Linked DNA regions of Homo sapiens: region 2 is linked to region 1. Evidence: fine-mapped QTL for protein levels in blood plasma. Region 1 holds a variant in brackets. A gene starts in the other region. All regions are shown on their reverse strands.

Region 1 (15,227 bases):
GTAAAATGCCATATCCCTGGGGACTTCACGCACTGTCTGTAAATTGTTTTCCCTCTCCCAACCAGCGTCTCTCTAACACTTTGTCCATCTTTTCTTTTTACTTTTTTCTTTTTTCTTTTTTTTTTTTTGTTTTTTGAGACAGAGTCTCACTCTGTCACCCAGGCTGGAGTGTGGTGGTGAGATCTCGGCTCACTGCAAACTCTGCCTCCCAGATTTAAATAATCCTGGTGCCTCAGCCTCCAGAATAGATGGGATTACAGGCATGCACCACCACATAGAGCATTTTTGTTTTGTTTTGTTTTTTTGTATTTTTAGTACAGATGGATTTTCTCTACTAAAACCCTAGGCTGGTCTTGAATGCCTGGCCTCAAATGATCTGCCCGCCTCGGCCTCCCAAAGTCCTAGGATTTCAGGCATGAGCCACAGAGCCTGGCCCCATCTTATTTTCTTCATAGCACTCAGTATAAGGTGAAATGCTCTCAACTATTTATTCATGCATTTGTCAATTATCCCTCCCATGAGAACTCAGAGCAAGGACTGAGTGTGTTGTATGCCCTTGCCTGGTGTACAGGAGCTGCCCGCTCTACACATGTTTGGTGAATGAATGAATGAATGAATGAATGAATACAAGAATGTTATGAAGCTGCTTGAAAGAATGAGGTAGACCTGTATGTCTTACTTGGAAAGGTGCCTTAAATGTATACATGTAAATCCACTTATGAAAAACCAGAAATTAATCAAGTCTATGGAATTAGAAGAGTGACTAGTTTTTGAGGGCTCACTATCATCTGGGCACAGTTTTAACCACTTTTACATTTATTGTCTTGTCTCATTTGGTCCTCACAGTAACCTTCTGGGATAGGTACAGTTTTTGGCACCATTCTACAGAGGAGGACGCTGACACAGAGAGGTTAAGAAACTTGCTTAAGGTCACGCAGTCAGGAAATGGGGGAGCCAGGAAATGAATGTATAGGGTCTGACCTCTGAAAGAACATTCACTAAATGGTGTAGAGTGTTTATTTCGGGATGGACAGGGGCTGAGGTGAGATTCTGGAGGCCGTGGGGTATTAGGGGAGAGGTCCAGACGCCAATTCTATTCCTGCAGTACTGTGTGATCTTGGGCAAGTCATCTGCTTCTCTGTGCTTACCTGGGAACCAGAGGCGATGGTGCAGGGCTACCGAGAGAAGTAAATAGGATAACGTACCCACAGCGCCCAGCTCGAGGCCCTCCATCAGCCGACGATGGGAATGTTTGGTGGAGTAAGTCTGCCCTTCAAGGCCTGAAAGCCCCGTCCCGGTTCCCTGCGCCAGGGCCGCACAGGGGTGGGGAGAGGGCCGCAGGGCCTGGTTGCTTGGCTTGAGGCAGGGTCCTCCCTCAGGGCCTCGGCTCTCCCAGCTGTCGGCCGCGCTGCAGCTTCCCCTGCTCTGGACCGCGACTGCCTGGGCTGGGCGGCCGCACCACGGAATGCGCAGGGGTCATTTTTGGAAGAGCTCAGCTCCAGGCGCAAGGTGCCAAGAGCAGGGCGGATGACTTCAAAGGGCCTTTGCAGCACGTCCTGAAAGATGAGCCCTTGCAGCTCTCCCTGCCCCCGCAGAACACACAGCTTGAAAGGGAAATCGAGCTCGGAGCAGGTGGCTCAGGAATTTGGTGCACGCTGGGGAGGCAGCTCATTTGGGCACAAATACGCGAGGAGGGCGTGGCCTCCTTACACTCCCGGTTAGTATTGCGCGTTTGGGTCCGGGGTAAGCTCGCCTTCTGAGCTTTCATCGCTGGCCGCATTTCGCATTTATTTTTCTGTTTATTTCATGATCCCTTTCTTCCCCGACGAGGGCCTGGGATTTGTCTGTTGCTCTCTGTGTCTACAGTTCGACCTGCAGCGGAGGATGAGTAAATGTTTCCCTAGTGAATGAATGCGTTTTCCTCTTCCACCGGTTTCATCACGTTGGAAAGGCACCGGGGTTTAATCCTGCCTCTAGTAATAACCAGTTGGGTAATCTTGGACTTCGCTGTTCAGCTATAGGCTTAAAATCTGCCTCCATTTGAACCCAGGCCCTGCCTCTTACTAGCTGCGTCACTTTAGAAAGTTGCCAAACTTCTCTGTGTTTCAATTTCCTCATTTGGGCAACGGGGTACTGAGTGCCTATGTCACAGATTGGAGTGAGGGATAAAGGGCTTAACACATACGAAGCGCGACTAGGACGGCACATAGTAAGGTCTAGATAAATATTAACTCGTATTATTTTATTATTATTTTAAAATCAACTTTATTAAAGTATTAACTTACAAACAATAAAATGCACTCATTTTAAAGTATACAGTTTGATGAGTTTTGACTGATATGTACACCCATGTAAGCACCACCTCAATCAAGATAAGCATTTCCAGGTCCCCGAAAGTTCCCTTTGTCCCTTTTAGTCAAGTGCTTCCCTCGCCCTAGCACCTGACTGATGAGTTTTGCCGGTTCTCGAACTTTCCATGAGTCTGGGAATGGTGGTTCACGCCTCTAATCCCAGCACTTTGGGAGACTGAAGCAGGAGGATCACTTGAGCCCAGGAATTTGAGACCAGCCTGGGCAACGTAGGGAGACCCAGTCTCTACAAAAATTTTTTTAAAAAATTAGCTGGGCTGGTTGGCATGCACCTGTAGTTCCAGCTACTTGCAGGCTGAGGCAGGAAGATCACTTGAGCCCAGGAGTTTGAGACCAGCCTGGGCCACATAGGGAAACCCTGTCTCTACAAAAAAAATTTAAAAAAAATTAACCAGGCATAATGCATTGCACTAACACTTATTCCACACTCAAGAAACGCTCTCTCCTACCTCCTCTCCCTTCTTCCCGTTAAAGGGGTCCTTCCAAGGGTATCGGGAGGCAGGAATCTAAAGGTCAAGGGCACTGTGGAGTTGATGGGGGAGAAACCACTGTGTTTATAAAGCAGGTTGTTATTTTTTCATTCTTTGCCTTGTGTCCTTTCCCCTACTTCCCTCTTTTGAGGATAATTAAAATGCAAGCTGGCACTCCCTTGGAGGAGACAGCTGAAGATTTAATTGCCCCAAGAAAAATTTTCCAGCAAAAGGTCCTGTGGTAATGGCAGCTCTCGGCCGGGCTGCCCGAGTGCCTTTGCATCTGGCACAAAACATTAGCGATAATGCATTAATCTGCATGTGCACAGGGTCCATTTACTGGCATGGGGGGGAGCCATGGCAGAATCAAGCCGACAGCCTTAGTCAGGCTGCAGCCTTCTTGCCATTAAACTCTCACCCGGCCTCATTCTGGAGACAGGTCTGTGGCCCAGATCCATGCGACCGGCTGCCGCACCAGCTGACCTTGCCCAGAGAGGGCCTGCGGGGGCAGAAGGCCCAGGTTGGTGGGAACGGCACCTTCTACCATGAGGGCTTGGCCTGTTGTCATTGAAGCAGAGCCAGGAGGACAAGTCTGTTGAGAGGCTGAGCCCCGCCAGCTCCCAAAGTTGAGCCATTGACCAGCCACGCTAGGGTTGTGCAATTTGAGAGTAGACAAATTTTTGCAATCTTTTATCCTGTTTTCTAAGTATAGCCCCAGTTTCTCTAGAAGAGGAACCAAAGGCTCAGACAAAGGTCATTGGCTCCTTGCCTGTTGGGGATCATGCGTCATTTTTTTAAAAAAGTGATTGCCCTGAACCCAGGATCATGATGAAAGGCAGAGAAACTCAGTGGGAAAAGTCAGATGTACTGAGGTTTGCTTCTAGTTCCAAACCTGCCAGCCAGGGACTCTCAGTTCTCCTAAAATGCCAAGCAGACTCCGACTTTTATGCTCTTCCTTCTCCCCCTTTGCTCTCTTCCCTCCCTCTCCCCCTTCCTTTCTTCCTTCCCACCCATCCACCCATCCGTGCTCTCCTGCATCAATCCAGCCATCCATTCAGCCTCCCTTCTTCCATCCATCTATCCTCTCATCCTCCTTCTCATCACTCCGTCCATCCTCCCATCCCTCTAATATTTGCTGGGTGCCTCCTATGGGCTTAGCATAGGAGTTACACTGATGAGTGAATCAACACCCTCCTTGCCCTGAGGCAGCAACTGGGGCAGTAGAGGAGAGGATGGTAATCATGTAATCACAGTGCCAATGTATAATTACAAATTGAGATGAGGGCTACAAAGAAGGGCTGGACATGGTTACTATGGAAGTGTTTGACAAGGGAACTTAGCCCAGCCTCTGGATTGGAGGACAAGCAGGAAAGATCCAGGGAGTGTTGCAGGCAGAGGGAGTAGCTCATGCCGGGGTCCTGTGGTTCATTTTAGAAACTGGCAGGAGGCTGGTGTTGCCAGTGCAGGGAGTGATGGAGAGAGTGGTGTGAATCGGGCTGCAGAGCTCAGTAGGGGCCAGTGCACACAGGGACGGCTGGCCTCTGCCAGGCACTGGCTCCTTGGAACTCCTTTGCACTGGCTCTTTTGCACTTACCTGGCTTCTTGTTACTTATTTTTTAGATCTCAGTTCAGGGATTTCCTCTTCAAGAAGTCTTTTTCTGCCCTGTGCAGGCTGAATGAAGCCAGTATACTTTCCTTTAATAAGACAAAGTATCTCAAATTTGGAAATAAGGCAAAAGAAGGCAGTGCTTCATCTCGTTGCCATACTGGGGCACGGTTTAAAAGCCCCACTGAAGGATTAGTTAGTTCTGTAGAAGAATATACCTGAGTTTGTCTTTCCTATTTGATTAAGGCCCAGATTGGGGCTAATTTGTAGACTTTTGTCTGGTGGGTGCAAATGGCTTCTGTCTGGCAGAAAAAAAATATCTCCAAAGATATGGCCTTATTGCCTTGTGGGACATTAACCGGATTGATCTCTAACTTGAAAATGTTATTCTCACCTTCCTTTTTCAAAGCCTCTAAGTGCCCATTTACTCTTGGAACCAGCTCTTGCCCCACTGCTGGCTCACTCATTAGTGTGTTAATTCTGCACTTGTACGTCATGTTTGTCACGCCCTTCTCAGCAGCGCTCATCCCTGCACTGGGATTGCCAGTGGCTCTGGTTCCCTCATATATGAGCTCATATGGGTGTGGTCCATTTTTTGTCCACATTGTGTCCTCAGAACTTTGCACAGGGCCAGGTTCCAGTAGGAGCTTGAGAAATAATTACTAGTTGAAAGATCTTGAACTTATTACCTCTCCACCTCTCTGAGCCTCAATTTTCTTCCCTGTGAAATTGACATTCCATTTGTAAAGAATGTGAAGGTTCCATGAAGTAAAGAATTCGAGTGTCCAGAGTCCAGCGTGGCACATGGTAGGCTTTAGTCTCCCTTATCCTAGGGGCTGAATCCCAAAGGTAGAGCGTGAAGTTCTGGTTTGGGAGCTCATGTCTGGTCAAGAGGACACCAAGTCACTGGAGGAATGACTCATGGTGGGGCTAGGGAAGTCAAAGGAGTTGCTATATAGTATTTCTTGGGAGAGGAAAATCAACCTGGCCAAGGAGTCCAGCAGGGGCTGGGGAGGAGCAGGAAATGTTCTTAAACAGGTCAGGTGGTGGTATAAGGCAGAGGACTCCGAAAACCAAGCTGGGGTGTTGCACCCCATACCCGAAAGGTTGGTAAGAGAGACCTATCTCAGGCTAATGAGAAAGAGAGGGACTTGATAAAATTATTCGTCAGAAGACCCACCATTGCAGCGATGCTCTAATAACCTGGCCTGATATGTGAGTGTGTGGGTGTGAATGTGTGTGTGTTTCTGTGCATATGTCGACTGCTGTCTGCACCACACTGCTGCAAAGAGTCTTAAATCTACTTTCTCATCGAACTCTCGCAAGAACCCCCGGAGGTGAAGGCTGCTACTATCCCTGTTTCACAGGTGACAAAGCAGAGGCCCAGTGGTGAATCTCTTTGCCCAAGGTCACAGGGCAAGGACTCTGGGGTGCAGTTGTATCCGATTCCAATGGGTGGAGGAGGAGGAAAAGTGATGGAAGGAATCTCAGGAGATGAAGTGATAACAGATAATGGCTTATGCTTGTAGCCATCCTTAATCTTTGTGCTGTTTAGCATCTTTCACTGTTTTCTGTGCTGTTTTGATCACGGGGATGTTCATCTTTCCAATGAACTCAGCGACACTCCTTGGGCCCCTCACTGGGGCCAGGCCCTGGGCTGGGTTCAGCTACCGAAGATAAGGTGTTGACACTAACTTTAAAAAATAGATTGGCCGGGGGTGGGGAGGGGCAGGCATCAAAGGTTGAGGGGGACAGGGCTGGGCATCTATCTTTTAAAAAATTCAAGGCATAACTTATATACAGGGAAATGCACCCATCTTAAATGTGCAGCTGGAAAGGTTTTTACATATGCAACCTCCCAGATAACCACGACTCAGGAAGACGTAGAGCATGTGCCACCCCAGGCTTCTCCTGGTCCTCCCTCCAAGGGCAGCCACTCTTCTGATCTCTGTTGCCAAGGTTTTGCCTGTTTTTGAACATCAGGAGCACGTCTTCTTAAAAAGCATCTTCAATGTCATAATCTTGTATTCAGAAAAGAAACCAAGAGCCTGGTCAGGCACAGTGAAGAGGGTGGTGAAGCGGGGTGGTGTCGGGGATCCCAGCAGTGGCAGGCTCAAGGGTGCCTCGGCTGGCTGGTGAGCAGCCAGGCAGCCATATCACCCTGATGTTCTGACACTTTGGTGGTGAGATGTGGTGTTTCTGGCTACTGACAGTGTCCAGTGTATCCTGAACATTATCTATGCCCCCCACTTTCTCACTATCAGCCCCAGCCCCCATCATATGCCCATTCAGTGCTGGACTAGACCATACCCACAGTGGCGTCACTTCCCGGATGGCGACCTTGGAGCAAAATGCTTAATCTCTCTGTGTTTCCATTTCTTTATTAAGTGGGGGATAATCATAGTACCTAACTCATAGGTTTGTTAAGAGAATAAAGTGAATTAATTTTAATAAATACTTGTCCAGAGTTTAGGAGAGTGTCTAATATGTAGTATGTGTTTATGCCAAAATTAAATAAACCTTCGTCAAAACTTGGCTGTTGGAAATGTGCTAGAAGACACATGGGCTTTTACAGTTGGGCATTCAAATCTTGGGGTTGGGGGCCAGTGGAGATTTTCCTGATTATCACGTAAAATGGGCAGGGGCTTCAGGTGGAAGGCAGAGGACTCTGGCCTGGTCCTCATGGAGGAAGGGAGTCTTAGCATTCTCCTTTGCACCAGGAGGAACCCCAAGGAGGTGTCCGATAAATGCCAAATGCTTGACTGATTTCCTGGAGGGCTGGAAAAGGGCCACTTAGCTCCCATCAACTTTCATTTCGCCTGCCAGCCTCCAGCCCTGGAGATTTGGCCGTGGAGAAGCAAGGCCCAGGTGCTGCATGAAATACACCCACCAAGTCTCCTTGTCTGGACACGCAGTCCATCATCCCCCACCTTCCCAGAGAATGGAAGGCATTTCCCCACCCACTCGGCCTGGATTCATGCCTTGAACACCCCATTCCTGCAAGCAGTGCACATATTTCATGGGTTGCTCCCGGAGGGAGGCGGAGAGCTGAACTCAGGCCACGGGCCAGGAAACTGCTGAGCTGTCTGTTACAGCCAAGGTCCTGGCCTGAGAGGAGGGTGACCTCTCTGAGCCCCGCAGAAGGCTCCTTGGTTCAGGTGGTCTCTGATCACATGGACCAGGCCAAGGGTGTAGGGATGATCCCCAGTGGGCTTGTGGATCTGAGTTCAAGTCTCAACTTGACTAAAGACTCTGCGTGAGATTGGTCATGTCACATGCACTTCCAGAACCTCATCTTTCCTTCTTTGCAAAATGGGCACAACCACAGCGATCTGATAGTCATGAGAATTAAATGAGGCAGTAAGTACAGTGTGGGGGAGAAGAGTCAGATTCCCTGGCTTCAAACTGCTCTGCCATGGGACATTGGAGAAATGACTTCTCCGTGTCTCAGTTTCCTTATCTGCAAAGCACAGAGAACAAGAGTTCCTCCCTCATGTAGCTGGGAGAAGGAAATGAGTTCTAACTGTGAAGCACGCGGCAGCACACTTGGCATAGCTGTTATTAGCTATCATGGTGGTTAATTTTGCAGTCAGTGGTCCATACATGACGTATTGATTATTAACCCAGTGGCTAAGCATCAGGCACTACAGTTATCCAGTTGGAACTGGAGGCTCAGTAACATCACTCATTAGCTGTGTGAACCTGTGTAAGTTGCACCCTCTCTCTGTGTCATCTACAGTCAGTAACATAATTGCCCTTGAGTCACAAGGTTTAAGAATTCATCAAGGTAAAGCGTTGACACATAGTAACCACTAAATATTAACATATTTATGCCTTAACTTTATTACATAATTAGCACTAATATCATTAATGATCTAATGGAGGGATAGAAAGGAAACTAACATTTATTGAGCACCCACTATAAACCAGCACTTGACATCAGTCATCTGGCAAGGATATTACAGGACAAGCATTAGATGTCTGCATTTGGTGGGGAAGGAAAGTGAGGCCCCAGGAGGAGGGTGAGCCGGGTGTCCGAGATCCCATCAGTGGTGAGAGGCCACGAGACTCAGCTATGCAGGGTCAGGGCAGGAAGGAAAGACACAAGCCTCAGTGATGGCCTACCCAGTGCCAAGCGTGGGCTCAGTGCTTCCAACCTCCTTGAATCCACACAGTCACCCTGGCAGGGACTATTCCTGCCCCATTGTGCCGACGCGGGGCCCAAGTCTCAAAGAGGTGCTGTTTGAACTCCCACAGCTACAAAGCAGCAGAGCCGAGATCCAAACTCAGTTGTCTATATGGAATTTTATCTCAACCTTACACCGGCTCCTTCTGAGCCAGGGCAAACAAAAATTGTACGTCTCTAAAACCTACGTGAGGGGCTCAAATGCTGTAGGTTGTTTCCAAACCCTGGGGTCCATTCAATCCTCTTCCAGGCTTTGGCAGGAGGGC[A/G]GGCAGGCCCCGAGGCGGCCCCGGGACGCACTCACAAAGACAAGAATACTGAACACCGGAAGGACTCATTATTACCCAGAAATCTTTATTACAAAAATATTTTGCAAGCCAAAAAGTTTAAGTTGCAACTATATACAAAATGGGGCCTGTTTCCTTCCCAGCAGTCTTAAAATAAACTCCTGAAACCATGCTCCTTCCGCAGGGTTGGTTCGACCTCTTCCTTTTCCTGGGGTTCAATACACAAGGTATGTGGATTCTCCAGGTTGCCAGGCTAAAGCTAAAGCTATACATCTTCCTTGGCCTTATTCCCTTATTTCCCCCTCCAAGAATTAAAAAATAAAATAAAATGAAAATGGCACCAAGAAAACATTCTTTTAAAATACTGAATGTGTGTGTGCATGCGTGTGCACACGTATGTGCTGTCTCTGGGTAAAAGAGAGGGAGACGAAGGTTTACAAGCCAATCTTTTGGAATTTGGAACTAGCCTGAGCCAGGTGGCTGGGTCACTGTGGCTCCCAGATGCCACACGGGAGCTCTGGCCAAAGCTGTCCACATGGTCTGTTGGCTCAGCTAATTCCTGGATGCCATCATTGAAATCACCAGGTGACCATCCCCCAGAGAGCTGGGTCTATGCTGAGCTCCTGCAGTTTCACCTGTAGGACCTCCAGGAATGGGCAGGATGGCTCAGCTACTTTTACAGCCTGAGCCAGAAATCCCTTGGGCATCCCAAGGCCAGGAGTCATGAACATTAGCGTCTCAACTCTAAGAGTTATAGTGAAGACTGAATAAATAGGGCTTGCGACATCTGCTTGCCCTGGGCCCGGTCAGGCCCTCACACCCGACTGGAAGGGTGGGGGTTAAAGGGTAACTGGGTCACACCCTCTGGCCAACCTTCTGGGACAGAGGGGGAATCAGCCCGAGCTTCACAGCTGCACCATCCCCCTGGCTGTCTTCAATTTATTCCAGTTTGATCCCAGTAGGGTTTGAGAGCAGAAATGGAAGATTTCTTCTTCAAGGATCAGCTCAGAAAGCCGGGATGGGGGCGGTCACTAAAGGGGTAGGATAGACGGCCAGGGCCACTATCCCTACCCTCTGTGTGTTCCTAAAGTGCTTATGAGAGGTGGTGGGGAGGGGTGTCATCTTCACTATCCCCACTTTACGGATGAGCAGACTGAGGCATTGGGTCTCGATAAGACTGCACTGTCAAGAGGCAGCCCTCAGCAGCCCTGGGCAGGCTGGACTTACCACAGCGGGGTCACAGAAGGCTGCACTACCAGCCGCGTGGCTCAGCTGAGAACATGGCCAAGTCAGTCCCAGCCAGAAGGCTGTGTCTCCAGGGAGTGGCTGACCTGATCCTTCTTGCCCATTCTTGGGGTTCTGGGACTTGGAGGAACTCAAGTCTTCGCTGTAAGAAAATCCCTCCAGGACAACAAACTGTTAAACCTCAGACTTCACAAGACCCAACCATGGACTTCAACACATGACAGACAGCCAAGATCACGTTGCTGTTGTTTTAAGAAAAAAAACAAAACAAAACACCACAGATCAAGTTTTCTAACACCTCAGTTTCAAGATTGCACGTTTCACATTTCTCAGTAATTTACAGGCGTCCACAGCGAGATGTTGCTTAGTGCTAGCTGGAGGGGCAAGCTCAGGTCTAGAAGGGAGAGATGGGTCCGGGTGGAGCAACACAGTTGGGCCCCAGGGAGTCTTGGAGGGACCCAAGGAAGCAGAGGGTTTTGTCTCCAGTCCTTTGGGAGGGGTCCTCTCCTCCTCCAGGACTCATGGCTCTTTAGCCTAGGGATGGGGGAGGCCAGGACTGTTGGCAGCAACCTCACCAAGCCTGGATATGGGTTCCAGAGTTTTTTTCCAGCTTTTCCATGGAAGGGGCAGTTTGATCTAAAGGGGAAATCTTCCCCACTCTAGCCCCAGTTGGGTGGTGGTGGTAGTGGTGGTGGTGGTGGTGGTGGTGGTGGTGGAGGTGGTGGAGGTCAGGGGAGGTGGGATTTTCTCCTCCCCACCCTGGAAGATCAGGCTTCGGAGCATCGGGGAGGCAGTCGAGGGTCTTCAAAACCCACATGGTGATGGACGGAGGCACAAGAGTTCTTGGACCCCAGGCAGTTCTGGCCACTTCCCAGGTTGGTTCCCTGGCTGGTTTGGCAACGTCAGCCTCCAGGTATGTGGCAATGTGGGGGGAGGGGGCCGTGGCTGCCCAGGAAGTGCTGGAGAGCCAAGGAGGGGTGGGGAGAGAAGAGCCACCCTGGCCCCTGGGTCCCAGAGCCTGCACCGCCCCAGCCCTCCGGGAACTGGGTTGGCTGTGCTCATCACGGCGGCTCCCTGTGGGACAAGAAAGCGCGTAGAGATGGGTGCTAGAGCAAACCACGGTCCCATTCACTTCCTCGGGACCTGGACGCTGGCGTACTCTGAGAAGGACGGCTCAGGCTTGGGGGCCGGCTGCTTGGGGGTCCGGTTGAGGTGGACCATGTCCAGGTCAGCATAGGTGAGGGTGTCCTCCGACGCGGGCTGCGGGCTGGTCTGAATGCTGGCATACTCCGTGTGGTTGTTGGGCTCCGCAGCCTGGGGAGCAGGCTTCTTCCCCTTGGGCAGGTTCAGGTCTGCATATGTGATATCATTTGTGTCCTGGATTTAAGATACCCAAAGAGAAAGTCATGAGAAGGTCATTCTATAGCCCCTGGCCCACTCACTCAAACTGAATACCAAGTCTGGATGCTTCTGTGTCCTCTCGGCCCACACTGGCTCAGCCATAAGTCATGTTCCCCTCATCTCTTGCCAACGTTACTTGCCTCCAGCCTTGCCCCTTCCCATCTGCCCTCCTCCTCACCCTGCCTGAAGGGTCTTTCTGACCCGCACAGTGCAGTCTCCTCACAGCCCCGCCTCAGTGTCACCTCCTCCCGTTCCTGCCTCCTCCTAGCCTGAACCACCTGCAGTCTTCACCCATTTCTCATGTTCATCCCTCGAGGGTGTCTGTCCTGCTTCTCCTTGTAACAAATCCCAATCCACCATGTAAATTTCAGATGAAGCATGGCTCATACTAAGACCCTCCCTGGCTCTCCCCTCTCCTGGCAGGGTCCATGTTCCTTCTTTGTGCTTCCTCAGCCCATGTTTGTTTTCCATCACAGGGCCCGCTACCCAGGACCATGTCTGTTTGGGGGCCTGAGGAGGTGCTGCTGATGGTGGTACGTGTGGGGACATTCATTAATGTATGCGTTTATTCCACAAATATTCACTGGGCATTTGTTATGATTCAGAAACCAAGGCTGGCACATAAGAAGTCTGATCCATATTGAATGAATATATGAGTGGATGGCAATAATTTCACCTTCACTCAGGGCAAAGCTGGGGACAGGGAGACAGAGAACAGGGGCAGTATAAGAACGAGATCGCCAGTTAGTGAAGCGGGAAACGTTCTGGAGTCAGAAAGCCTGGGTTTGAATCCTGGTTCTAGCTCAGGGATTTTGAGCAATTCACTTAACCTCTCTGGGCCTCAGTTTCTCCATCTGTAAAGAGGGGATGATAATAGTGTCTACTGCCAGGGTTGCTGTGAGGATGGAATGAGATTATCCAGGTAAAGCGTTTAGAACAGAGCCTGGTACCTATTGAGCATCTGTCTTCAATAAATGTTCGCAATCATTAACCACTTAGCAAACTTGGATACCTCCCATGTGCTAATCCTATCAACCTGCCACTGCCGCCTCAAAAGCGCCCATCATGAATGATAAACTTTGCTCCCTCTGTGACTGGCCCCTGCGTGATAGAACAGAATAAAGCTACCACCAACCGGCACACCTCCTAGTTGGTGCACGGTAATGGCTGATTTCAGTTCTCAGGGCTTACAAGCAGCACACAATCACATAGATCACCCCATCCACTCTTACCACAACCCTGCTTGGGAAGGATTATCTATTCCACTTTACGGCTGAAGACACTGAGACCAAGGGAGGTTCAATAAAGTGGACAAAGTTGTCCGGCTGGCAAAGAACCAAAGTGTGTTGGACTCTACGACTGTGCTCTTAGCACACAGCTCCTCTGTCCTGAGCCCTGCGTGCTCTCATTTGCTTCTGTCTGGGAAATCCGTGTTGACAGCGTGCAACTCCCTCCCTGGCCAGGGCTGGCACCTGGCACTGGAATCGCAGGCACTCTGCCAGCTGGGCTGTGACTGTCTGGCTCACTGTCCAGTGCGTGGCACACAGTGGGTGCCCAGTAAGTCTCTGCTGTGAATTTCGTAGAGGTTTCCATGACCCATTCTTCTCACCATCATTTTTTTCCCCCAGAAGATTCCAGGAGGAAGTCCAGAAGTAAAATGATGGGGGAGAAGATCTCCCTCGCTCATGACTGGAAATTGTTTTTTCTTAATTACAACTCGAGCTCATGTCCGGGGCTGCGGGGGGACCCCATGGGTCACAAGGGCAGGGCCAAGGCATTTTGGTCTACAAATGCTGCGCCTTTCACCAGCCCGACTCCTTCAACAGATTACATCTAAAAAGATGACAACTGCCTTGGAAATGTCAAGGACAGCTGGCGCGCTCTCGTTCCGGGTTCAGAGCAGGGCCTGTCTTGTTACAAGATGCTGAGCAGCCCTCTGCCTTCAAGGTCTGACAGCATCAGCCGGTGATAAGCAGGGCTAGGTTTCTCAGAAACCGTGTTGCTGCAAAATCATCTCAGCAATGCTGACCAGAAACCTCCAGCTTGAGTGAGTGTGCCCTTGTGTGAGGTAATTAATGACATGGGGTCTTTCCATCAGCAAAGGTGGGAGAGGCCCTGGCAGGCTGGGCTTTGCAGTTCCAGCATAGAAAAGCCTGGCTGTGAGGAGCGGGCAGTGAGCTGGGAGTGGCGCTCCTGGTAGAGGGATGGGCCTGGGCAAATGTAGAGAGATGGGAAGGCACGATCCACACTAAGGGAGCTGCAGCCTGACTCCAGGGCACCATTTTCATAGGACGGATTGTGAATGGTGCCCCTGGGGAGTTGTGCAATGGGTCGCACTGAGTCATGAGGCTGCAACAGCCACTCTTGGCTGCAGTAGAGAGAAGGAATATGCACAGGACATGGGGAAAGCTAGGAGTGTAAGATCCTCCACCCTCCACCCCACAAGGAGTCTTAATTTAGAACCAGATCTGCAATTCCGGTTGATGTGAAGCAACCACGCCACGGAGTTTCCCAGGAAGGGCATCTCACCAAGGACTGTACCTGTGTTATTTCTCTGGCATTCTTCTCGGGCTCATGCAACCTAAAAAGGAAAGAGACACACAGATAAAAATACCCTCACTATCTCAAGTGCTCATGCAAACTGATAAGAATAACATTTAGGCTCCATTTTCTATATGGGTTGAGGACATGAACGAAGGACTCATAACAGAAATACAACTGCATATCAAATGTTTGGACAAAGGGGTCAATCTCACTAAAAAGGAATTCTAAGCAATGCACTATCATTTTTTTAACCTACTCTATTGGCAAGGATCTTTAAAAATTATAATACTTGGTGCTGGGGAAGCTATGGTGAAATGAACTGGAGCTTTCATACGTCACTGGTGGGAGAGGCAAACCAGTACAATCCTTTTGGGAAGCAGCTGGCAAAATCAAGAGCTTGGAAGATGTCCTCATCCTTTGACTCATAATTGCACTTTTTTTTGGGGGAATTCAAAATATAGAAAAAGCTTTCAACACAAAGGCATTTGTCAAGGGCTGGATGGGGGAGGAGGTTTATGTCTTAGGGCTCTGCCAATTGGGACTGGTTAGGGAAATTAGGATAAATCCACAGATAAAGATTTAAAAGGTTTATGAGGAGGTTTTTTTTTTAAGTTAAAATTGCTTACATTAAAATGATAAGTGAAAAAGGAAAATTCTCTGTAGGATTATCTCAATTATGAAAAATGTGTGGATAACACTGGAAGGAAACATAGCAAAATGCAAACTGCAGTGGTCTTTGCATGGTATTTTTTTTCTCCTTTTTAGTTTCCCATATTCTCCAAATGTTCTGTATTATAAACATCTATGTATCATCATTAAAGAAAGAAAAGAAAAAGACCAAGATGTCCAAGTTAATCAAAGAAGTTGTTCGTGCACTTGCTTCTGTAATTGGAGGTCATGACTTGACTCACTGGAGGGTCACGGTCAAGGTGATGAGCAAACCAGAGCCACTGGCTTGGCAGAAGTTGTGTAAATTCTCAAGCCGGCAACCCCGGGGATGTTAGCATGGATAATGTCAGAAATGAGCAGTGGGGCTTGGCAGCAGGGTTATTAATGGATTTGGCATGAGTGCTTGGCTCTGAAAGCAGTTCTGAGACATGACAAGCCCCACGTGGCCACAGA
Region 2 (15,227 bases), not on the chromosome of region 1:
TCTGGGAGGCCAAGGCAGGCAGATGACTTGAGCCAAGGAGTTTGAGACCAGCCTGGGCAACATAGCGAGACCCTGTCTTGCCCTTTTCTAAGAGGCCCACCTCTACCCCTACTCCACACATGCCCCAGCATTTACCCCACTTTCTTTCTTCCTCATGCTCACCATCCTCTAGCATGCCATACAATTCACTTATTTATTTATTTATTTATTTATTTTTGAGACAGAGTCTCACTCCATCACCCAGGCTGGAGTGCAGTGGCATAATCTCGGCTCACTGCAACCTCCGCCTCCCGAGTTCAAGCAATTCTCGTGCCTCAGCCTCCTAAGTAGCTGAAATTACAAGCGTGCTCCCTCATGCCCGGCTAATTTTTGTATTTTTAATAGAGATAGGGTTTCACTGTGTTGGCTGGGCTGGTCTCAAACTCTTGGCTTCAGGTGATCTGCCCGCCTCGGCCTCCCAAAGTGTTGGGATTACAGGTGTGAGCCACCAAGCCCAGCCCTATTTATTTATTTTTGAGACAGGGTCTTACTCTTGTCACCCAGGCTGGAGGGCAGTGACTCAATCTCTGCTCACTGCAGCCTCTACCTTCTGGGCTCAAGTGATCCTCCCACCTGAGCCTCCCAAGTAGCTGGGACTGCAGGCATGAGTCACCACGCCTAGCTAATTTTTGTATATTTTGTAGAGATGGGCTTTCACTATGTTGTCCAGGCTGGTCTCGAACTCCTGGCCTCAAGCAATCCTTCTGCCTCGGCCTCTCTAAATGCTGGGATAGCAGGTGTGAACCACTGCGCCCTACCTAATTCACTTATTTATAATGTGTACTCGCTTCCCCTCTGTCCCCCCAGTGCCTGCCACAAAGTAGAAGCCACGCAAATATGTGTTGATTTCACTGTTCCATTCACTCATTTAACAGGCAGCTGCCAGCCACGGCCCCAGAGCTCTGCTTGCCTCCCGGATTTCTGTTGGGGTCACAAGGTTCCAACTCCAGGGTCCTGAATTCTGATCTTAGATACCAGGTTTGGCCTTCAAGTTCTGGAATCTATGTTCCAGAATTCGGCTTCCCAAGACCCACAGCCCAGAATCCAGGCTCCAGAATTCAGGCTCCCCGAGATCCAGGCTTCAGAATCCGAGCTCCCTCAGACCCAAGCTCCGAATCCGGGCTCCCTGAGATCCAGGTTCCGGAATCCGGGCTCCTGGAGATCCAGGCTCCGGAATCCGAGCTCCCTCAGATCCAGGTTCCGGAATCCGGGCTCCCCGAGATCCAGGCTCCGGAATCCGAGCTCCCTCAGAACCAGGCTCTGGAATCCGGGCTCCTCCAGATCCAGGTTCCGGAATCCGGGCTCCAGGCTCGCATTCCGGGCTGGGAGCCAGCCACAGCCGTTAGGCTGAGATTTTTAAAATCTGGCGCCAAAATCCACTCCCCGGGTGGGAGTGGCGGTGCCGGGTGGAGGTCAGTGGAATGGACGGGTCGGGACTGGGGCCCTCACGGGCTGCATAGTCCCAGGGTCCGGGATTTCTCTCCCGCGGCCCCGTACCCTCTCCCCAAAAGCAGACAGCAGTTGGTCACTAACTTTCTTTTCTTTTCTTTTCTTTTTTTTTTTTTCAGACGAAGGTTCGCTTTTGTAGCCCGGGCTGGAGTGCAATGGCGCGATCTTGGCTCACTGCAACCTCCGCCTCCTGGGTTCAAGCGATTCTCCTGCCTCAGCCTTCCGAGTAGCTGGGGTCACAGGCGCCTGCCACCACGCCCGGCTAATTTTTTTTTTTTTTTTTTTAAGTGGAGACGGGGTTTCGCCATGGTGGTCATTCTGGTCTCGCACTCCTGACCTCAGGTGATCCGCCCGCCTCGGACTCCCAAAGTTGGGATTACAGGCGTGAGCCACCGCGCCCAGCCAATTGGTCACTAATTTCTAGCTCCCGGGGGAAAGAGGGTCCCGCGTTCGAATCCCGCCTCCGCTACGCCCCTGGTGCGGATTCCCCGACCGGTCCCTAACCTTCCTGTGCCTCAGTTTTCCATAATGGAAATGGGCCCGGAGCCCCCTGGCGCGTGTGGTGCCTTGGGAGGCCCCTCGGAATGGACGGGGCAGCTTTGCGGGATGCCCCAGACCTCGGGCTCTGGGCGCAGCTGCCAGCAGCAGCCTGGGCGTGGGTGCCCCCGGGGGGACCACGGTCTCAGCTGTCACCGCCCCTCCCGTTCGGCGCCAAAATTTGAAAATTGCCCAGCGCCTCCCAAACTGCGCGCTGGGAGGGGGAAAGCCCCGGGCCCCACCCACGGGAAGCGCGGGGCTTTCTGGGACTTGGAGTCCAGTCCCTGGGGGTCCCGCGGGGATGGCTCTGGGCACCCGAAGCCCCTCCCCAGCGCCGAGACAGGAGGGCTGGGGTAGATTCGAGACCCCGGTTTGCAGAGCGCAAGACTGAGGCCCAGGGCCGCGCAGTCAGGCAGGAAACGGCGCTCCTGGCGGATGGAACAGCACGGGCAAAGGCTGGGTATGGGGGTATGTGGGGATGGAAGTGCCCAGAGGGGCAGCGCGATGGGGTTGGGGGCGGGACCCCGCAGGGCCTCCAGTAAGGGGCTAGTTGGGGGATCTGGTCAGCCAGTGGCCAAGGCCGGTGGTCAGTGAGAAGTTGATGCGGAGCGGGGGGGCGGTTTCAGATCAGTCTGAGGGTGGAGAATAGGAAAAGTGACCCGGCCGGGCGTGGTGGCTCATACCAGTAATCCCAGCACTTTGGGAGGCCGAGGCTGGCAGATCACCTGAGATCAGGAGTTCGAGACCAGCCTGGTCCAACATGGTGAAACCCCGTCTCTACTAAAAACACAAAAATTAGCCGGGCGTTGTGGCACATGCCTGTAGTCCCAGCTACTCAGGAGGCTCAGGCAGGAGAATCACAAGAACCCAGGAGGCGGAGGTTGCAGAGAGCTGAGATCGTGCACTTCAGCCTGGGCTACAGAGCAAGACTCTGTCTCAAAAAAAAAAAAAAGTGACCCCATTTCCCACCCAAACCTCAATCATCCTTCTCCCCTCTGGCCCCGCCTCCTGTAGTATTATTTATTTCCCATTGTGCTTTACCATCTGTCTTTATATTTTATATTCCTCCCTTTATGAGGAAGGAAAACAGTATCAGTCCTCTAAATACGCAGTCACTGCTTAGCTCCCTCTTGCCTGGCTGGTTTATTTGTTGTTTGTTTTGAGAAAGAGTCTTGCAGCTGGGCACGGTGTCTCACGCCTGTAATCCCAGCACTTTGCAGGGCCGAGGTGGGCGGATCATTTGAGGTCAGGAGTTCAAGACCAGCCTGGCCAACATGGTGAAACCCCGTCTCTAGCAAAAATTAGCTGGGCCGTAGTGGCGCACGCCTGTAATCCCAGCTACTCGGGAGGCTGAGGCAGGAGAATCACTTGACCCTGGGAGGTGGAGGTTGTAGTAAGCCGAGATCAAGCCACTGCACTGCAATCTGGGTGACAGGGTGAGACCCTGTCCCCCCTGCCAAAAAAAAAAAAAAAGAGAGAGAGAGTCTTGCGCTGTCATCCAGGCTGGAGTGAAATGGTGCAATCATAGCTCACTGCAGCCTCCACCTCCTGGGCTTAAGCCATCTCCTTGACTCGGCCTCCCAAGTAGCTGGGGATACAGATGCACGCCACCACGACCAACTAATTAAAAAAATTTTTTTGTAGGGGCCGGGTGCAGTGGCTCACACCTGTAATCCCAGCACTTTGCGAAACCGAGGTGAGCAGATCACTTGAGGTCCAGAGTTCAAGACCAGCCTGGCCAACATGAGGAAACTCTACAAAAATACAAAAATTAGCCAGGCATGGTGGCGCATGCCTGTCATCCCAGCTACTCAGGAGGCTGAGGCAGGAGAATCTCTTGAACCCAGGAGGAGGAGGTTGCAGTGAGCCAAGATTGGGCCACTGCACTCCAGCCTGGGGGACAGAAAGACTCTGTCTCCAAAAAAAAAAAAAAAAAAAAAACTGTAGAGTATTGTAGAGTTGGGTCTTGCTATGTTGCCCAGGCTGGTCTCAAACTCCTGGGCTCAAGCCATTTTCTTGTCTCAGCCTCCCAGAGTGGCTGGGATTGCAGGTGTGAGCCACCATGCCAGGCTTCCTGCCTGGGTTCTAAGGCTGGGGGTCTATCTGGTAAGAGGGGAATAATAGCGAGTGAATGTTGGCTGTTGGAGGCAGGTGGGCTCTTTCCCCTGGTGTCCTCAGTAGGCTGGAAAGGGCATTAGATTCTCAGTGTGTGATTTACTGGGGTCTCTGGCAGAGGCTGAGCCAAACCCCCAAGGTGAGATGTGTAAAAAGGAGGAGTTCCCCAGGCAGAAGGAAGACCGGGCCAGTTCTAGGTCAGGAGGAAGTTATTCTCCAATTGGGGCAATTTTGCCCCTCTGGTGACATGTGGCAATCTCTGGAGACATACTTGGTTTTCATAACTAGGGGGCCGGGGTCGGACGCGGTGGCTGACGCCTGTAATCCCAGCAACGTGGGAGGCCAAGGCGGGCAGATCATTTGAGGTCAGGAGTTCAAGACCAGCCTGGCCAACATGGCAAAACCCTGTCTCTACTAAAAATACAGAAACTTAGCCGGGCATGGTGGCAAGTGCCTGTAATCCCAGCTACTCGGGAGAGTGAGGCAGGAGAATCGCTGGAACCCGGGAGGCGGAGGTTGCAATGAGCCGAGATCACGCCACTGCACTGCAGCCTGGGCCACAGAGCGAGACCCGCCTCAACTAAAAATAAAAATAAAATAAAAAATAAGTATGAGGCTGGGATGCTCGTGGCATGGAGTGGGTGGAGACCGAGGATGCTGCTCAATACCCTGTAATGGACAGCACCTCCTGACTCCAACCCCCTGCAACAGAGAGTGATCTGGCCCCAAATATCTAGTGCAGAGTTGGAGAAACACTGCTGTATAGGTTGTCTTGTTAAATTACAATTTTGGGGGGTTTTTTTTGGAGACGGAGTCTTGCTCTGTCGCCCAGGCTGGAGTGCAGTGGTGTGATCTCAGCTCACTGCAACCTTTGCCTCCTGGGTTCAAGCGATTCTCGTGCCTCAGCCTCCCAAGTAGCTGGGATTACAGGCGTACACCACCACGCCTGGCTAATTTTTGTACTTTTTGGAGAGACAGGTTTTTGCCATTTTGGCCAGGCTGGTCTCGAACTCCTGGCCTCAGGTGGTCTGCCCGCCTCGGCCTCCCAAAGTGCTGAGATTACAGGCATGAGCCACCGCGCCTGGCCTTGTTAAATAAAATGTATGGCAGGCCATTGTTTTAGACAATGGGGTCTCTAGTCCCCAGCAGACCAGATAAAATTGGAATGGAGTCACTAGTGCCAGGTACCACGTAGTCAAACTGATCTTTTATTTTTTTTATTTTTTGAAATAGGGTCTCGCTCCGTTGCCCACACTGGAGTGCAGTGGCGCAATCATGGCTGACTGCAGACTTGAACTCCTGGATGCAAGCCATTCTCCTGCCTCAGCCTCCCGAGGAGCTGGGACTACAGGTGTGTGCCAGCACATGTGGCTAATTATTAAAAATTTTTTTGGCTGGGTGCCGTGGCTCACGCCTGTAACTGCAGCACTTTGGGAGGTCGAGGTGGGTGGATCACGAGGTCAGGAGTTCAGGACCAGCCTGGCCAAGATGGTGAAACCAGGTCTCTACTAAAAATACAAACATTAGCTGGGCATGGTGGCGGGTGCCTGTAATCCCAGCTACTCGGGAGGCAGAGAATTGCTTGAACCCAGGAGGTGGAGGTTGCAGTGAGCCGAGATCATGCCATTGCACTCCAGCCTGGGTGACAAGAGCAAGACTCTGTCTCCAAAAAAAAAAAATTTTTTTTTTTGGAGACAGAGTCTCACTATGTTGCCCAGGATGTTCTCAAACTCCTAGGCTTAAGCGATCTCCCCATCTCAGCCTCCCAAAGTGCTGAGATTACAGGTGAGAGCCACCCGTACCTGGCCTCAAACTGAACTTTAAAGGGTGCAGGTTTTCAAAAAAAAACATTCACAGCCACCAAGCCAAAGGGGACCGGTTAACCTGATAGGGAAGTACCCTCAAAATAGAGGGGGTTAAAACAGACCCTATGAAAAAAGTAACTTTGAAACAACCAATTGGTTTTTATTTCGTATTTTTATTTTTACTTTTTTTGAGACAAACTCTCACTCTGTCACCCAGGCTGGAATGCAGTGATGTGATCAGGGCTCACTGCAACCTTGACCTCTCTTGCTCAAACAATCCTGCCACCTTAGCCTCCCAAATACCTAGGACTATAGGCGCCCAGCTAATTTTTTTTTTTTTTTTTTTTTGAGGTGGAGTCTTACTCTGTTGCCTAGGCTGGAGTGCAGTGGTTCAATCTTGGCTCCCTGCAACCTCCGCCTCCCGGGTTAAAGCAATTCTCCTGCCTCAGCTTCCCGAGTAGCTGAGACTACAGGCATGTGCCACCATGCCTGGCTAATTTTTGTATTTTTAGTAGAGACGGGATTTCACCATATTGGTCAGGCTGGTCTCGAACTCCTGACCTCATGATCTGCCCGGCTTGGCCTCCTAAAGTGCTGGGAATACAGGTGTGAGCCACTGCACCTGGCTAATTTTTTTATTTTTATTTTTAGAAATGGGGTCTTGCTATGTTGCCCAGGCCAGTCTCAAACTCCTGGGCTCAGGCTATCCTCCCACCTCCGCCTCCCAAAGTGCTGGCATTACAGGCGTGAGCAAACCACTGTACCTGGCCTGGCTTTTATTTTAATTCTTATTTCTCCTTTCTTCAGCCTTTTCTGCCTGTAATGCAGAATGCCCATCCTCTCTGCTCAGCTCATTGGAGTGCCTATTTAATAGATTGAATGCTATCCAATTCATGAATTGCTAATAAGAGCCAATGAGATCATTAAACTCAATTTGTTGAAATTCATACTCCTTGACAGCCTCTTCTGGACATTTTATATCAGTGGCATTGTACACTATATGGCTTTTTTTTTTTTTTTTTTTTTTTTTTGAGACAAAGTTTCTCATTGTTGCCCAGGCTGGAGTGCAGTGCCGCGATCTTGGCTTACTGCAACCTCCACGTCCCAAGTTCAAGAGATTCTCCTGCCTCAGCCTCCCAAGTAGCTGGGATTACCGGCGCGCGCCTCCGTAGTAGAGATGGTGTGGGGGGGTCTCCCTATGTGGTCCAGGCTGATCTCGAAATTCTTTTCTCAAGTGATCCACCGGCCTTGGCCTCCCAAAGTGCTGGGATTACAGGCGTGAGCCACCACGCCCGGCCCTATATGGCCTTTTGTGTCTGGTTCTTTGAACACGTTTTGAGGTTCTCTAAGTGGGGAAACAGGTACTAGAAAGCAACCCAACGCTGTTTCCTCGTGGCGGAGCTGGGAGTTTGCAGCCAGGAAGTCTGTCTCTGGAGTCAGCGCCTCTGCGAAGCGAGAGCTGGACGGAGACTTCAACTTCCGGCGTGCCCCGCGCGCGCCCGGCGGTCGGACTACCAGTCCCAGGCTGCCCCGCCGCGGCGGGCGGCGGGCGCGGCGCGGCGCGGCGCCATCTTGCAGCCGGCGGCGCGGATTGAATGAGCCCGCCGAGCCCGGGCCGCCGTCGGGAGCAGCGCAGGCCGCGAGCCGCCGCCACCATGGCCACGCCGCTGCCCGGCCGCGCGGGCGGGCCCGCCACGCCGCTGTCGCCCACGCGCCTGTCGCGGCTGCAGGAGAAGGAGGAGCTGCGCGAGCTCAACGACCGCCTGGCGCACTACATCGACCGCGTCCGCGCGCTGGAGCTGGAGAACGACCGGCTCCTGCTCAAGATCTCAGAGAAGGAGGAGGTGACCACGCGCGAGGTGGGCGCCGGGGCTTAGGGGCCGGGCGGGGGTGCAGCCGGCAGGCCCCGCCCACCGCGGGGCGCGCGATCGCGGGGACCCTGGGCGGGGGTGCAGACGGGGACGGGCCCCGGCTTCGGGGGTTTCCGCGGGGTTTCGGGGGGCCCCTGAGTGAGGGGTGCAGCTCGGCCAGGTCCCTCCCACCGCGGGGTGGGCAATCGCTGGGACCCTGGGTGCAGACAGGGACGGGCCCGGGTCTCGAGGGTCTCCAGGGGGTTTCGAGGGGCCCCTGAGTGAGCGGTGCAGTTCGGCCAGGCCCCGCCCACCGCGGGGTGCGTGATCGCGGGGACCCTGGGCGGGGGTGCAGACGGGGACAGGCTCCGGCTCGGGGGTCTCCAGGAGGTTTGGGGGCTTCTGAGTGAGGGGTGCTGCTCGGCTAGGCCCAGCCCACTGCGGGGCTCCCAGTCGCGGGGAACCCTGAGCTGGGATGCAGACGGGGACAGTCCGGCCTCGGGGATCTCCGCCGCGTTTCGGAGAGTCCCTGAGTGAAAGGTGCTACTCGGCCAGGCCCCGCCCACCACGGGGCGCGCGATCGCGGGGGACTCTGAACGACTCCCGGCTTGGGGTCTCCAGGGGGTTTGCGGGGGGCTCCTGGATGAAGGGTGCAGGTCCTGGCCACCGCGGGGTGCGCGATCGCGGGGACCCTGGGCAGGGGTGCAGACCGGGAAGGGTCCCGGCTTGGGGGTCTCCAGGGGGTTTCAAGGGGTCCCTGAGTGAGGGGTGCAGCTCGGCCAGGCCCAGCCCACCGCGGAGTACGCGATCACGGGGGACCCTGAGCAGGGGTGGGGTCAGCCTGGCCTCGGGGATCTCCAGGGGGAGACCCTGAGTGAGGGGTGCCACCTGGGCAGGCCCTGCCCACCGCAGTTTCCGAGATCTTGGGGGACCCCTTGGGAGGGGTGCAGACCGGAGTGGCCCATTCTCTTGGGGACCTCCAGGGGGTTTCTAGGGCACTGAGTGAAAAGTGCAGACCAGGAATGCCCCACCTATGGAGGGGGTCCCAGGAGATCTTCCGTGTCCTGAGTGAGGGCTGCAGAGGGGCCTCCAGCTAGCTCTGGGGACCCTTCCGTGAGAGGTGCATTTTGGGGCCATGGGGGTTACAGACTAGGGCTCCCCACCAAAGAGAGGTCCTGGGGATTTGGGGGCTCCCTGAGTATTGGGCTGCAGCCCCCCATATGCCTCGTCCCTCAGAGGATTCCAAGGAGACTTGGCGGACCCCCCCCAACTGAGGGGGTGTGAGTGGGAGTCTCTGGGGATGAAGCTGGGTATTGGGGTATCTGGGGTGGAATGGGGGTGGTCTCTGGGCTCCAAGGAGACTGGGGGGCCCAGGCCCTCTGAGGAGGCCCAAGATGGGGTGTGTGGGGGGTCTCCCTGGAGTCTCTGGGGTGAGTCACGTGGTCTCAGTTCTCCCTGGAGCTTTAGCGAGTTCCCTGATGAATCCAGAAGAGATTGGTGACTGGGGTGGGAATTAGGCCCCTCATCTCTCACCAGGCCCAGGGTGGGTAGGGGGCCGAGGGAGAGGTTCTGATACCTTGGGGTCCCACGGGAAATTTGGGAGTCCCTTATTTGTGCCCTGGTGTCAGCGGTGGTCTGGCAGGTTCTGCCCCCAAGAGAATATGAAGGAAGGGTGAGAGTTGGGATCTTGGGTCCGGTGGAAAGTGTTGAGGTTCTGAATGGGCCCCGAGGCTTCAGTGCAGACTGAAGGAGAAGAGGCGGGAAAGTCTGCCCACCAAGGGGACATGAGGTCGGGGTGTCTTGGGGTCTGGGTGCAATCTGTCCTGCCCCCCAACCTAACCCTGGGGAGGCTCTTTGTCCCTCCCACTGGCCATGCCCAATCCAAGGACAGGACTCCAGAACGGGGGGCAGGCAGGAGCACCCACTTGATTCCTGCCATGGGTTGGGGTCCTGGGGTCCCTAGGCCCCAGTGTCCTGTTGGGAGAGCTGGGTGCCGAAGTCGGGATTTGCAGCGCCCAGTCCCCACTCGCCCATCTGGAGATCAGAGGACGTGGTGGGCTTCTGGGAGAAGAGCTGCTTGTTGAGGGGGTCGGGTCATTTCTGGGAGCCACTTACCCTCTGTGTGACCTTGGGCTAGTCGCTTACCCTCTCTGGGTCTCAGTGCCCTCGCCTTTGGAATGGGTGTAATTATAATACCCACCTCTTACTTGTGTGTGGGGCCACAGCAGGTTAACTTTTGTTCAGTAGCTCCCTGTGGGTTGTTTTCACAGTGCCCTGGGGACAGGGAACCTGAAAGAATGTAGCTGGTGCCTTCAGGGAGGTAGAAGGAAGATCAGTGCTTGGTGGGATCCCCTGCTTTTCTTTCTTTTTTTTTTTTTTTTTTTTTGAGATAGAGTCTCGCTCCGTCGTCCAGGCTGGAGTGCAGTGGCGCGATCTTAGCTCCCCGCACCCTCTGCCTCCCGGGTTCAAGTGATTCTCCTGCCCCCGTCTCCCGAGTAGCTGGGATTACAGGTGTTCACCACCATGCCCGGCTCATTTTTGTATTTTTAGTAGAGACAGAGTTTGGCCTTGTTGGTCAGGCTGGTCTCAAACTCCTGGCCTCAGGTGATCTGCCTGCCTCGGCCTCCCAAAGTACTGGGATTACAGGTGTGAGCCGCCGTGCCTGGCCAGTCCCCTGCTTTTCAATTAGTGTGGCTTTGGGCAGGCCCCTGTGTCTCTTGGAGCCTCCATCTTGCCATCTGTCCAGTGCGGAGTTGTCCCAACTTAGAGGCCGCCTGCTGGACCCGTGGCGTGCAGGGTTAGAGCTGGTTTCTTGTCTTTGGGCCTCTGTTATCCCACCTGCCAATGGGACGAACAGCTGCAGGGAGCTTTGAGGGTGCAGGGCCTGGTGAGTGCTGGGGAGGTACCAGCCCCAGCCCCACTGGACGCCCCATTGGACCGGCCCTGTGCCCTAGAGGGAGCCTGGCCCAGCCACCTCTCGGGGCCGCAGCAGCATCCTTTACAACTCAGTTCACTCAGGCTGGGTGAAATGCGGGTCTGACTCCAGTGAAGGCAGCCATTTAGCAGGTGACACACTGGCCCCTCCGTGAGCCCTGTCACCCAGCCGTGTCTGCAGGGCATGTGGCAGGGGACAGCTGGGAGTTCCGCCTGCGACTAGTGGGCCAGGAACCCGGCTAGTGGGGAGCAGAGTTGGAAGCCTGCTGGGGTGGGGGCCGCTGGTGGGGGGACGTCATGTGGGCCCACATGGAGGGAGTGACCTGGAATAGCTGGGGGCCTTCTAGACACAGGTGGGCCACGTGGGGTTCAGAGAGCAGCCTCAGGCTCAGGCTGGCAGGATGGGGGCAGGGGAGGGAGCTCTGAACGAGGAGGGACCTGGGGTGTCAGGCCTAAGAGCATGCAGGTCACCTGGACAGCAGGGCCTCTCTCACCTGGCCAGCTTCTGCCCCCAGGGGACTCTTGGCCAAGGCTGGGCATGCCCTTGGTTGTCACATTGGGAGGGAGACGGCATCGGCACAGCGTGGGTGGAGGCTGGGTACTGCTCAGCGCCCCGAGAAGAGAATCACCTGGCCCCCACGAGGATGACGCAGCCCTCACGAGGATGACCCAGCCCCATGAGGATGACCCAGCCCCCACGAGGATGACCCAGCCCCCACGAGGATGACCCAGCCCCCATTAGGATGACCCAGCCCCCATTAGGATGACCCATCCCCCATTAGGATGACCCAGCCCCCATGAGGATGACGCAGCCCCCATGAGGATGACCCATCCCCCACGAGGATGACGCAGCCTCCATGAGGGTAACACGGCCCCCATGAGAATGGCCAGGCCGAGGAGCCTGCTGGGAGGCGTGAGGGACTCAGTTCAGATTTTTTCAGGCTCATAACACGACTCACAGCATCCTGGTGTGTGGCGGCCCCCGAGGTCCTCACACACGCCTTTCTCACTTCTTTTTTGAGATAGAGTCTCACTCTGTCGCCCAGGCTGGAGTGCAGTGGTGTGATCTCGGCTGACTGCAACCTCTGCCTCCCAGGTTCAAGCAATTCTCCTGCCTCACCCTCCTAAGTAGCTGGGATTACAGGCGTGTACCACCACACCCGGCTAATTTTTGTATTTTTAGTAGAGATGGGATTTCACCATGTTGGCCAGGATGGTCTCTATCTCTTGACCTTGTGATCTGCCCGCCTCAGCTTTCCAAAATGCTGGGATTGCAGGTGTGAGCCAGTATGCCTGGCCTTTTTTTTTTTCTAGACAGAGTCTCTCTCTGTCGCCCAGGCTGGTGTGCAGTGGCGTGATCTTGGCTCACTGCAACCTCTACCTCCTGGGTTCAAGGGCTTCTCGTGCCTCAGCCTTCTGAGTAGCTGGGATTACAGGCGCCCACCACCATGCCCGGCTAACTTGCTCACTTCTTTCCTGCCCGCAGGAGTTCACCCTTGCACACTCGTACAAAACCAGGCCAAGCATGGGTTCCACATTCCCATGTGACACTAGGGGGTGTCTTTTGGCGGTGTGGATGAATCGCCATATACAAGCATCGTTGGAGGGCTTGGGAAAGGGTGGGGTGGGGGCTGGCCAGATGGGTATTTGTTGAAGGAGGATCACTGAGTGCTGGGGGCGGGGGCAGGTGCAGGGAGGCCGCGCTGTGGCCCGTGTCCAGGCGCGGGAGAGGCAGGTACTCCAGGTACTTCCCTGCCAGGCCTTACGTTCCCGAGGGAGGAGACCTGGCTTCGGCATCTTCTGTCTTCCCCTGCCCCGGTGTCCCCTGGCTGCTCAGGGCTGCTGGAGGGGGTCTCGGAGGCGGCCCAGGCGAGCGTGGAGGATGGAGTCCACTTTGGAAGTGACCCCAAGCCGGTGTTTGCATTTTCTGCACAGGGCTGTAGTTCTTAGCCGGGCCATTTTGTCCCACCGTGGCCTCCTCCAGCCGAGTTATGCTGCTCTGTGTGTCCGAGGGGTCCCAGGCAAAGGCCATCTCAGGCTATCTGAGCCCTGCCAGGCCCACATGTGTGGACACACTTGTTGACTTCCCTCAAGCCTAGCACTTGCTAGATGCCGTGAAAGATGAAAGAAAAGGCCCAGCCTGTCCCCAGCCCTTTGCAGCGCCTCACAAGCACAAGGAGGCCGTCCTGCCCCGGCACACCCGTTCCGCAGGCTCAAAGGGTCTTTGTGAGGTGCCCCAGCCTCTAGAACTTTCCTCATCATCACAGCACGGCAGACCAGGCATGGTCAGCAGACTTTTTCTAAAAAAGGCCAGACTGTCTGCATCTGAACCACTCAGCTCTGCCATAGGATGAAAGCTGCCTTAGCCCATAGGTGAATAAGTGGGTGCTGCTATGTGTCAATAAAACTTTATTTATACACATGGAACTGTGAAGTGCATAGAATCTGCCTGTGTCACAAAGTCTCTTCATCTTCCCCCCTGGCCTTTATCGTTTTTGTTTTTGAGACAGTCTCGTTTTCCAGGCTGGAATGCAGTGGCACAATCTCCGCTCACTTCAACCTCTGCCTCCCGGATTCAGGCGATGAAGCGATTCTTGTGCCTCAGCCTCCCCAGTAGCTGGGATCACAGGTTTGCACTGCCACGCCCAGCTAATTTTTGTATTTTTAGCAGAGATGGGGTTTCACCATGCTGGTCAGGCTGGTCTCGAACTCCTGACCTCAGGGGATCTGCCAGCCTCTGCCTCCCAAAGTGCTGGGATTATAGGCATGAGCCACCTCTCCTGGCTACCCCTAGCCATTTAAAAATGTAAAAACCGTCTGGGCGCAGTGGCTCACACCTATAATCCCAGCACTTTGGGAGGCCGAGGTGGGCGGATCACGAGGTCAGGAGATTGAAACCAGCCTGGCCAACATGGTGAAGCCCCGTCTCTACTAAAAATACAAAAATTAGCTGGGCGTGGTGGTGCACGGCTATAGTCCCAGTTACTTGGGAGGCAGGAGAATCGCTTGAACCCGGGAAGCAGAGGTTGCTGTGAGCTCAGATCATGCCACTGCACTCCAGCCTGGGCAACAGAGTCTTGCCCTGTGCTCGCCCAGGCTGGAATGCAATGGTGCAATTTTTGTGTTTTTAGTAGAGATGGGGTTTCACCATGTTGACCAGACTGGTCTTAAATTCCTGACCTCAGGTGATCTGCCCGCCTCAGCCTCCCATCATCTTATGCCAGGTGCGGTGGCTCATGCCTGTAATCCCAGCACTTTGGAAGGCTGAGGCAGGCTGATCCTCCTGCCTCAGCCTCCCAAAGTTGTAGGACTGCAGCTGTGAGCCACTGCTCCCAGCAACATCCATCATGTATTCAGACTTCCTCAGTTTCCCCGATGTCCTTTCCTGCCCCAAGACCCCATCCACTATCTCACGTGACATTTAGTGACTACGTCACTGTCTCCCAGGCTCCTCCAGGCTGATAGTTTCCCCCACGTTCCTGGTTAGAGGTTCTGGTTGGTCCTGAGCGGGCTGGGCAGGTGTGCAGTAGGATGTTCCTCAATGGGGGTTTGTGTGTTGTTTTGCTCATCGTCACGCTGGGGCGATGGGATGAGTAATGTTTTAATGGAATATATATATATATGTGTATATATATATGTATATGTATATGTATTTTATTTTCTTTTTTTTGAGACGGAGTTTCACTCTGTTGCCCAGGCTGGAGTGCAGTGGCGTGATCTTGGCTCACCACAACCTCCGCCTCCCTGGTTCAAGCGATTCTCCTGCCTCAGCCTCCTGGGTAGCTGGGATTACAGGCATACACCACCATGCCCGGCTAATTCTGTATTTTTAGTAGAGACAGGGTTTCTCCATGTTGGTCAGGCTGGTCTCGAACTCCTGACCTCAGGTGATCCAACTGCCTTGGCCTCCCGAAGTGCTGGGATGACAGGCGTGAGCCACGGCGCCCAGACATATGTATATTTTTTTTGAGACAGGGTCTCTCTGTACCACCCAGGCTGCAGCGTAGTGGCGTGATCTCAGCTCACTGCAACCTCTGCCTCCCGGGTTCAAGTGATTCTCCTGTCTCAGCCTCCCGAGTAGCTGGGATTACAGGCGCCTACCACCACACCCAGCTAATTTGTGTTTTAATAGAGACAGGGTTTCACCATGTTGGCCAGGCTGGTCTCGAACTGCTGACCTCAAGTAATTCGCCCGCCTCAGCCTCCCAAAGTGCTGGGATTTCAGGCATGCACCAGCGCACCGGGCCCTAATGGATTATCTTTTAAAAATCAATTAATTCAAAAAATCTACAATGAACAAACTATTAATTCAAGTCAGGTGTCGTTTAGTGACAGGGATACCTTGTGGAAAGCGTGTCGTTAGGAGACGTGCCCCTTGTGTGGGCATGGTAGAGTGCACTCCCACACTCCCGGATGGTGGAAGCCACCACACACCCAGGCTTGGGCGTGGCCTCCTAGGCCACAGACCCACACCGCCCGCTCCTCTGTGGAATGCTGT

Alleles and levels. Alleles are on the strand shown, and positions count from the first base shown. The strength of an association depends on the size of the effect and on how common the allele is.
For the plasma level of the protein whose gene starts at base 7,515 in region 2, G is the low allele of the variant in region 1 and A is the other (weak association).

What was found. A credible set is the group of variants that fine-mapping cannot tell apart. PIP is the posterior inclusion probability: the model's chance that the variant is causal. Protein levels are from antibody-based Olink assays in UK Biobank. Linkage for the fine-mapping came from a reference panel and not from the study's own genotypes, which makes the PIPs less certain.
Region 2: it holds the start of LMNB2, and the variant in region 1 is the best candidate, but not a certain one, in a credible set for the plasma level of the LMNB2 protein (UK Biobank, PIP 0.89).

What each region holds. Positions count from the first base shown.
Region 1 is chr20:1,933,630-1,948,856 of GRCh38, reverse strand. SIRPA (signal regulatory protein alpha) reads right to left here. Exons shown (of 8, transcript NM_001040023.2): 7 at 14,103-14,142; 8 at 8,265-11,537. The coding sequence ends at 11,289. It overlaps PDYN-AS1 (PDYN antisense RNA 1), which reads right to left and starts at 1,647. Exons shown (of 4, transcript NR_134520.1): 1 at 1,206-1,647. RefSeq lists enhancers at 801-1,348, 8,167-8,666, 8,667-9,168, 10,682-11,234, 11,235-11,789 and 1 more and a silencer at 1,360-1,654. The variant A/G (reference allele first, on the strand shown) is at 8,898.
Region 2 is chr19:2,449,247-2,464,473 of GRCh38, reverse strand. It overlaps LMNB2 (lamin B2), which reads left to right and starts at 7,515. Exons shown (of 12, transcript NM_032737.4): 1 at 7,515-7,804. The coding sequence starts at 7,541. It overlaps LINC01775 (long intergenic non-protein coding RNA 1775), which reads left to right and starts at 2,289. Exons shown (of 2, transcript NR_134931.1): 1 at 2,289-2,493; 2 at 5,374-5,537. RefSeq lists silencers at 2,033-2,102, 7,417-7,596, 7,717-7,966, 8,027-8,116, 8,347-8,526 and enhancers at 8,787-9,495, 9,496-10,206, 10,263-10,877, 10,878-11,492.